Regions from separate parts of the Homo sapiens genome. Here region 1 is linked to region 2. Evidence: fine-mapped QTL for protein levels in blood plasma. Region 2 holds a variant in brackets. A gene starts in the other region. All regions are shown on their reverse strands.

Region 1 (4,383 bases), not on the chromosome of region 2:
GGAACTTCCTTAATGGGAGAGCCAGGACAGCAGCCTAGCTTTGGCAGTTTGGCTCCATTCTGCTCTCTTTATTCAAACTATTGCCTATTGTGTACTGTCTTCCATAGGTGTCTCTTCTGGAAACTGTACTGTGTTTTCCCCCTCAATCTACCTCTTTTTAAAAGCCAGACGCCATCTCAAAAGGGCAAGCTGATAAAAATGGAATGTCGGGGCAGCTATAACCTCTCATCAACAAAGGCGGCTGCCGTGTCTAAGCAGCAGGTTGGAGGCTCACCCAAGGATTAAATAAATGAATTAACAGTTAGAGAGAGAATGTTTTTCAGGCAATATCCTTTGGCAGGATTGTAATTCGCATTCAGTCAAGCTCCCATTTCCCCTTGGCAAAAAATTCATTTAATATGAGAGGACAGTGTGGCTTATTTACCCATTATCATATTTGGCAGTTCTTAAAGTTGCAATGCACCTGTTACTAAAACTCCGGAGTTGTGTCAGAGCCTCAGAAACAGTAAGAGTGGGGAGAAAGTGAAGGAGGTTGAAATTGAAATTTAGGTTAATTTTCACAACTACCTTTGTTCACAGTTCCCTTTCCATTTTTCACTAATTTTTAGAACTTCTGAATTCTTACAAGTTATCAGAAGGAAGGATTTTTTTCTTTGTGGCTTAAGAGTTTCAAACAGACAAACAAAAAATCAACCATCTGTTTCCCTAATTTCCAAGCAATTAGCCAGGTGTTAATTACTCCTCTTGTCAGAGTAAAAGCTGAAGCTTCCATGAAATGTTCTGCTAGTTTAAAATGAGGCATATTCATTCACTTATACACAGAAGTACAGTTTGAGAGTTATGAAGTTTTATAGTTGGTAGCAGATTAGCTCTAATGGCCAGTAAGAAAATAAACATGCATCAGAAAACAAAAATTAAGCAACTATACATACCCAAAGACAAACTTTGTTAAATGCCCAAGTATACCAGATTGAACCAACAGGGATGTGGGGGCAGTTTCCCGGAGACCTGGAGCACCTTTTCATTGGAGTACTTACCCACACAAGTAGAATTCCCATTTCCTGCGAGAGTACCTTCAGGACAGCTCCAGTGCTGCGGTGCTGAGAGACTAACAAAACTAAATTTTGAAACTACTGGCAACAGAATGATAAGAGTGAGCAGCATAATCTTGATGAGTTTGAACTTTCAAAAGAAAACAGCTTGATTTTGCTGGAGCATGGCCCGGGCAAGGTGAGTATGATTGACCCCAGATGCGGCTGCCTGAGCGGAGGCCTCAGCCCTGGGGCATCTTTTACTCTCCTGTTGTGCTGTTGTCCTCCAAGCTCTTTCTTCAACTGAGAGACCTTCTGAATGCAGCCTGCCAAGGGAAGCCACAGGAAAGATTTCTTTATCTATGTTTCTTTGGAAGCCAGTAAGAAATACCTGACACCCTTATGACAAATTTCACAGAGTTTAACAGCCCTGCTCTGGCTGACTTCACTGTGACAGAGCAAGGCAAAGGCTTAGAGAGGAAAAAGAAAGGAAGAACTGATGGAAAGTTCCAGCTACAACCCTTGGATTGGGGCTGAAAGAAGAAATATGGAGATACGATTCCTCTCCCAACAGTTTCTCTTTTTGAAAAGTGGAATGACTCAGCTTTGCTTTTTAAAGCTCTTCAGGCTCCACCTCCTTTCCTTTAGTGACACTTGAGTGAGCCTCTGTTTGCAAATGCGAATGTGGGCAATTCCTCCACACAGGAAAGCAGGGATGACTGCCAAAGAGGAGATAACTCGCTACTCACCATAAATATCCTGGGCAGAACTGGGAGAGAGGAGTTGGGGGCTGTGGAGGTGCTCATGGTGAATGGCGGGAACTGCTAAATATTGGCTATGTTTTAATGTCTGGAAGGATGGAGACAAAATTAAACCATGCAGTATAAATCAATAATAAGCAGCACTGTTGATAGTTTGGATTGATAATAATTGATCATTCACATGAGCAATAGTAAAGATAGTTCACCTTCAGCCCATTATTTGAACGAAATGTCAATACCAGTGCACATTCCAGGAGCTTTATCTTATTTTTCTCTTTCTCCTGTATAGTTTATAGCGGAATTTGAAAGATTATTCTTTCCAAATCAAAGGGAAATCCCTGAGGCCAAATGAAGAGATACAGTATGGACAGACACCTTTTCTTTCAGCATGAGCATGATAAAACATCACGAGGGGCCAGGAGTGCAGAGAAAGGAGTGGATTGTTATTATAGGGACATTGGAAAAAATAAGCTAACAGTGCAAAGCTGGGAAGCACTGGAAATCCAGCACAGAGGAATGCTTTTCCTTCTAAGATAATTTAGGCTTTTTTTTTTTCACATCTCTGTGATAGAAAATAAGAACTGGACGTATCTGTTAGCTGTCTCCTCAACCACTTTCTACTTGGAGCAACAGTGGTTATTTCTTCAGGAGTACAACTAGGGCCCAAAAATACCCAGAAGGCAAACAACTTATAGCAGATTTGATGCACGATGGAAATTTCTGTCAGTTTACTCCATCCTGGAAAATGGACTTTCATTTAAGTTACCCTGAGGTAGTGTTCCAAGTGCTGGTCAAAAATGTACGTAAAAGCAATAGTCACAAAAACAACTGTCACACTAGTGAACACCCCATTACAGAGGAGAACAGACTAACTCTAAGCCTTTTACTCATACTTAATTATGTCCTGATTATTCTCCAAAGACTGGATCACTTTCCTGAAACAGCTTAAGTCAGGATTTCTCCTATTTCAGCCAGCCTCTGCCAGGCAGCTCTGAACCCTTACAGGAGAAACAGACCCTGGGGAAGGGGGAAAGAGAAGTCCTTTAGGTGGTTATGCGGAATATTCCATTGCTTTCTGGACTGAGTCAGACTCAAGACTCATAATGAGCATCCTACAAATAACCTGCACTGACTCTTCGAGTTACTAACTTTATTAATAAGCTTCCCTTTCAGCACAATACATTGCCAGCATCCCAGATGACAGCAATGGAAGGGGCTTAGAGGACAATCAAGCATCACGCTGTGTCAGTGGAGTGGAGTGGAGAGAATGATATGAAGACAAACATGAAATGATCCACAGCTCTGTTCTGTTTGGATTTGGAATCTCTCATATTATTTTTGGTTGGAAAAAGGTTTGCTTTCTTAATTACATGTCACCTGGGCTAATGTTGTCATTAATGTTGAGTACAAGCTCCCTAGGAGATGACGGAGTCAACAGAGGTATAGCAGATGCTATGGCTGATGACTGATGATGAAAATCAATCGCAGCTAATTCATCATCTACAGTTGCCCAGATAGCAAAATCATAGGACAGAGCTACCCAACTGGGAAGGATTTACAGAGATATTTAATAAGTTTATATTCCAGCCGGGCGTGGTGGCTCATGCCTGTAATCCCAGCACTTTGGGAGGCCAAGGTGGGCAGATCACACTTCAGGAGATCTAGACCATCCTGGCTAACACGGTGAAACCCCATCTCTACTAAAAATACAAAAAGTTAGCCAGGCGTGGTGGCACATGCCTATAGTCCCAGCTACTCATGAGGCTGAGGCAGGAGAATTGCTTGAACCCAGGAGGCGGAGGTTGCAGTGAGCCGATAACACGCCACTGCACTCCAGCCTGGGTGACAGAGCAAGACTCTATCTCAAAAAAATAAATAAATAAATAAATAATAAGTTTATGTTCCTACTTCTGGATAAAACTGAACCTTTCTTGCACTCAAGAAAGGTTGAAATAAACTCTTTATTTTAAAATTGATAAGAAATGCACTATAACTTATAGGTTTGAGCTGCCAAATATGATTTAATTTCTGGAATTGAGTTAAAGTTAACTAATTCATTCGTTAATTAAACAGCTATATATGATAGAGCACTGCCTGGAGTACAAGAAACAGAAGTCGTAGTCCTTAACATCAAGAGCTTGCTGAGGTTGATTAACAGCAACAACAGAGAGTATGAGTATGAGCTAATGAATGACCAGCCACCAAGTACATGACTGGTCACAAACTGGGTGTCAGGAAAGAAGGAGGGGAGCTGCAATGTACTTTGGACTACAGCATGCAGTGTGAAGCTCTGTGGAGTAATTAGGATGCCTCAGAAGGACATAGAGAAGGAGAAGGGTCATGCTGACAGGATGTGGAACAGGAATGGACAAAAATTTTTTTTCTTATTTAATAGTTCCTTAGATCCTGAAGGGACACAGCTGGGTGGGGGAAACCCTGCTGGTAGGTCAGTAAGAAAGTTAGACATTAATAGCAAGGAGATAGCTCTGAATGGTTATAAGTGTGAGTGGACAGCAATAGCTGGAAGGGACTATTGGGACATATGTTTATGTGTGCTTGTCATAAAATTCTAACTTTTCCGATGAAATTTC
Region 2 (4,408 bases):
CAACTAAATAGAAATGCTGAGCAACACAGTGTACTTGATTCTTTTGCTTAGCATCCAATATCATTTCTGCCATTACAGTAAGTCTTTAAAAGTGGTTGGGTTTTCTAAATTCATTATATAATTACCCTCTTAAGGCTGAGTGAGCACTTAAAAATGCAATTCCTAAATTGTTTTTGCCTACATGATATCTCTGCTATTGATGTTATCATTTATCAAACACTGTGATGGGACATATTATTAAAACATATCTTAAAAGAAATTCAGGCTCTGATGAGCACTACGGCATAAAGCAAAGAAGAGTGGATTTGTGCCAGTCCTAGCCCTACCCCATGTGAGCCATATGGCCTTAGCAAAGCCACTTAATCTCTTTGATATTTTTCTCTTTAGCTATAAAACGCAGATACTCTGCTAAGTCAGCCCAATAAGAGATGTTGTGAGGGTCGAATAAGAAAATACATAGAAGAGCTTTGAACACCTGCAAAGCATCATGAAGGGTTATGATTATATCAAAATAATAGTAAGTCATCAACTTTTGAGCACCTGATATAGCCAGGGAATTCGGCAAGAGCTCTGGAGCCATCTTTATCTAAACTCCCAGACAAGCTTTCCATGTAGTTGCGGGGGATGGTGAACAGTATGCACACAAAATACGTGCACATCTTGGCCCGGCACAGTGGCTCATGCCTGTAATCCCAGCACTTTTGGAGGCCAAGGTAGACAGATCTCTTGAGGTCAGGAGTTCAAGACCAGCCTGGCTAACATGGTGAAGCCTTTAGTAGAAGTCTCTACTAAAAATACAAAATATTATCTGGACGTGGTGGCGCACACCTGTAATCCCAGCTACTCAGGAGGCTGAGGCAGGAGAATGGCTTGAATCCAAGAGGCAAAGGTTGCAGTGAGCCGAGCTCATGCCTTGCACTTCAGCTTGGGTGACAGAGCAAGACTCCATCTCAAAAAAAAAAAAATTTGCACATGTGTCTAATGACACTACATTAGATTCTAAAATGTACCTCAGATAAAAATGTAATTCTTGAGGATTGGCTGACTCAAACTGTATCTTGGCATGCTAATTTATACCAAAAGGGACAGATTGAACCATAGACCCTATGTACTAGACACCTACCAATTAGAGACTACCCTTTTGTGTGTGTATGTGTGTGTATCCCCTCTGGGTCTTATTCTTTTGTCCATATTGCTTTTTAAAAATTATATAGGCCAGGCACTGTGGCTCAAGCCTGTAATCCTAGAACTTTGGGAGGCTGAGGCAGGCGGATCACCTGAGGTCAGGAGTTCAAGACCAGCCTGGCTGGCCGGGCATGGTGGCTCACACCTGTAATCCCAGCACTTTGGGAGGCTGAGGCGGGCAGATCACGAGGTCAGGAGATCGAGACCATCCTGGCTAATACGGTGAAACCCTGTCTCTACTAAAACTACTAAAACCCCGTTTCTACTAAAAATACAAAAATTTAGCCAGGTGTGGTGGTGGGCGCCTGTAGTCCCAGCTACCCGGGAGGCTGAGGCGGGAGAATGGCGTGAACCCGGGAGGCGGAGCTTGCAGTAAGCCGAGATTGCACCACTGCAGTCCAGCCTGGGAGACAGAGCAAGACTCCTCTCAAAAAAAAAAAAAAAAAAAAAAAACAAAAAAAAAAACAGTCGGGCGCGGTGCCTCACGACTGTAATCCCAGCACTTTTGGAGGCCAAGACAGGCGGATCACGATCAAGACCATCCTGCTAACACGGTGAAACCCCGTCTCTACTAAAAATACAAAAAATTAGCCAGGCCTGGTGGTGGGCGCCTGTAGTCCCAGCTACTCGGGAGGCTGAGGCAGGAGAATGGCATGAACCCGGGAGGCAGAGCTGGCAGTGAGCCGAGATTGAGCCACTGCACTCCAGCCTGGGCGACAGAGCGAGACTCCGTCTCGAAAAAAGAAAAAAGATAATATTATTACCTCCTTAAAAGCAGAGAAAGCCTTTGGAAAAAAATCCACATACATTCGTCATAAAGCACTCAGGAAGATAGGAATTAAAAAATACGTTCTTAACATAATTGAATGTTATTCCTAAAATTAGTTTCTTATTTAATGGGGATACACTATAGGGAATTCTAGCATTGGAAATAAGGCAAGGATGTTCACTATCCACTACTTTTCAACATTGTATTGGAGGTGTTAACTACTATGATTAGATGACAGAAATCAATTACAGGTTGAGCATCCCTAACCTGAAAATCCAAACTTGAAAATGCTCCAAAATCTGAAACTTTTCGAGTGCTCACATGATGCCAGAAATGGAACATTCCACACCTGACCTCATGTGATAGGTTGCAGTCAAAATGCAGTTGCACAACATGGTTTATTCAGCATCCCCAACAGAAAAAAAGACCCTCCCGGCCCCTTTCAGCTGTGGTATATCTTTTCTGTGCATGCCCAGATTACCCCCCAACAAGCGTGCCTGTAAAGGGTAATAAAATTGTACATATGCAGCTGGATGCACCAATGGCAGGTTCCCCACAATGCCCCATATAGGGCCAAGACCTATGTGCATTACTCACTGTG[T/G]TTTTTTTTTTTTTTGCTTATTCTCTGCTCTGTGTTTAAAGATATTGTTGGAAATGCCAAAAAGATACCCCTATGGGTAACAGTGATAAGAAAAAAAAGAAGCACTTATGTTTATCTATAGCACAGAAAGTCATGCTGTTGGAAAAATTGGATGGCGGTGGAAGTGTGAAATGCCTTACAGAACAGTATGGTGTTGGAATGACCACCATATGTGACCTGAAGAAACAGATGGATAAACTGTTGAACTTCTGTGCTAAAAGTGATGGATAGAAGTTAATGAAAAATAGAAAAACACTGCAAAGCTGAAAATGAAGATCTTGATCATGTATTGAAAGAGTGCATCCATTAGCATTGCAGTGAGCATATGCCACTTAATGGCCTGCTTATCATGAGACAAGCAAAGATCTATCACGATGAACTGAATATTGAAGGGAACTGTGAATATTCAGCAGGCTAGGTGCAGATTTAAGAGAAGACACAGCATTAAATTTTTTTAAAGATTCGTGGTGATCATGAAGCAGCAGAGAAATTAACTAGTGTGCCAAGGTCATTGCTGATGAAAATCTGACAGCAGAACAAGTCTATAATGCTGATGAAACATTATTGTTTTGCTGTTATTACCCCAGAAATACATTGACTACAGCTGGTGAGACAGCCCCTACAGGAATTAGGGATGCCAAGGACAGAATAACTATGTTGCAATGTGCTCATGCAGCAGGCACACATAAATGTAAACTTACTGTGACAGGCAGGTGAAAAAGCTTGCTGTTTTCAAGGAGTGAATTTTTTACCAGTCCATTGTTCTGCTAACAAAAAGGCAGGGATCATCAGGGACAGCTTTTCTAATTGTTTTCACAAACATTTTGTACTAGTGGCATGTGCTCACTGCAAAGAAACTAAACTGAATGAGGACTGTAAGATTTTGTTATTCCTTGATACCGATTTTGCTCATTCCCCAGCTGAAATTTTCATCAAAAATGTTTGTGTCGGCTGGGTGCGGTGGCTCACGCCTGTAATCCCAGCACTTTGGGAGGCCAAGGCAGGTGGATCGCCTGAGGTCAGGAGTTCGAGACCAGCCTGGCCAACATGGTGAAACCCCATCTCTACTAAAAATACAAAAAAATTAGCTGGGCGTGGTGGCACATGCCTGTAGTCTCAGCTACCTGGGAGGCTGAGGCAGGAGAATCGCTTGAACCCAGGAGGTGGAGGTTGCAGTGAGCCGAGATCGCTCCACTGCACTCCGGCTTGGGCGACAGAGCATGACTCCGTCTCAAAAAAAAAAAAATATATATATATATATATGTGTGTGTGTGTGTGTATATATATACACATATATACATATATACATACATATATACATATATACATACATATATACACATATATACATACATATACATATATACACACATATACATACATATACATATATACATATATACACACACATACATATATACATATATACATATATACACATATATACATATATACATATATACACATATATACACACATATACATACATATACATATATACGTATATACACATATATACATATATACATATATACGTATATATACATATATACATATATACGTATATATACATATATACATATATACGTATATATACATATATACATATATATACATATATACATATATATACATATATACATATATACATATATACGTATATGCATATATATACATATATACATATATATACATATATATACATATATACACATATATACACAATATACATACATATACATATATACACATATACATATATATACATATATACACATATACATATGTACATATATACATATATACATATGTAC

Direction of the effects. Alleles are on the strand shown, and positions count from the first base shown. The strength of an association depends on the size of the effect and on how common the allele is.
As copies of G replace T in region 2, the plasma level of the protein whose gene starts at base 1,617 in region 1 goes down (weak association).

The links. A credible set is the group of variants that fine-mapping cannot tell apart. PIP is the chance, under the fine-mapping model, that this variant and not a neighbour inherited with it causes the effect. Protein levels are from antibody-based Olink assays in UK Biobank. Linkage for the fine-mapping came from a reference panel and not from the study's own genotypes, which makes the PIPs less certain.
Region 1: it holds the start of EGF, and the variant in region 2 is the best candidate, but not a certain one, in a credible set for the plasma level of the EGF protein (UK Biobank, PIP 0.90).

The regions. Positions count from the first base shown.
Region 1 is chr4:109,910,117-109,914,499 of GRCh38, reverse strand. EGF (epidermal growth factor) reads right to left here and starts at 1,617. Exons shown (of 24, transcript NM_001963.6): 1 at 1,038-1,617. The coding sequence starts at 1,164.
Region 2 is chr9:96,428,785-96,433,192 of GRCh38, reverse strand. No RefSeq gene overlaps it. Among named protein-coding and RNA genes, the nearest start is that of ZNF367, 13 kb to the right of the region's middle. The variant T/G (reference allele first, on the strand shown) is at 2,556.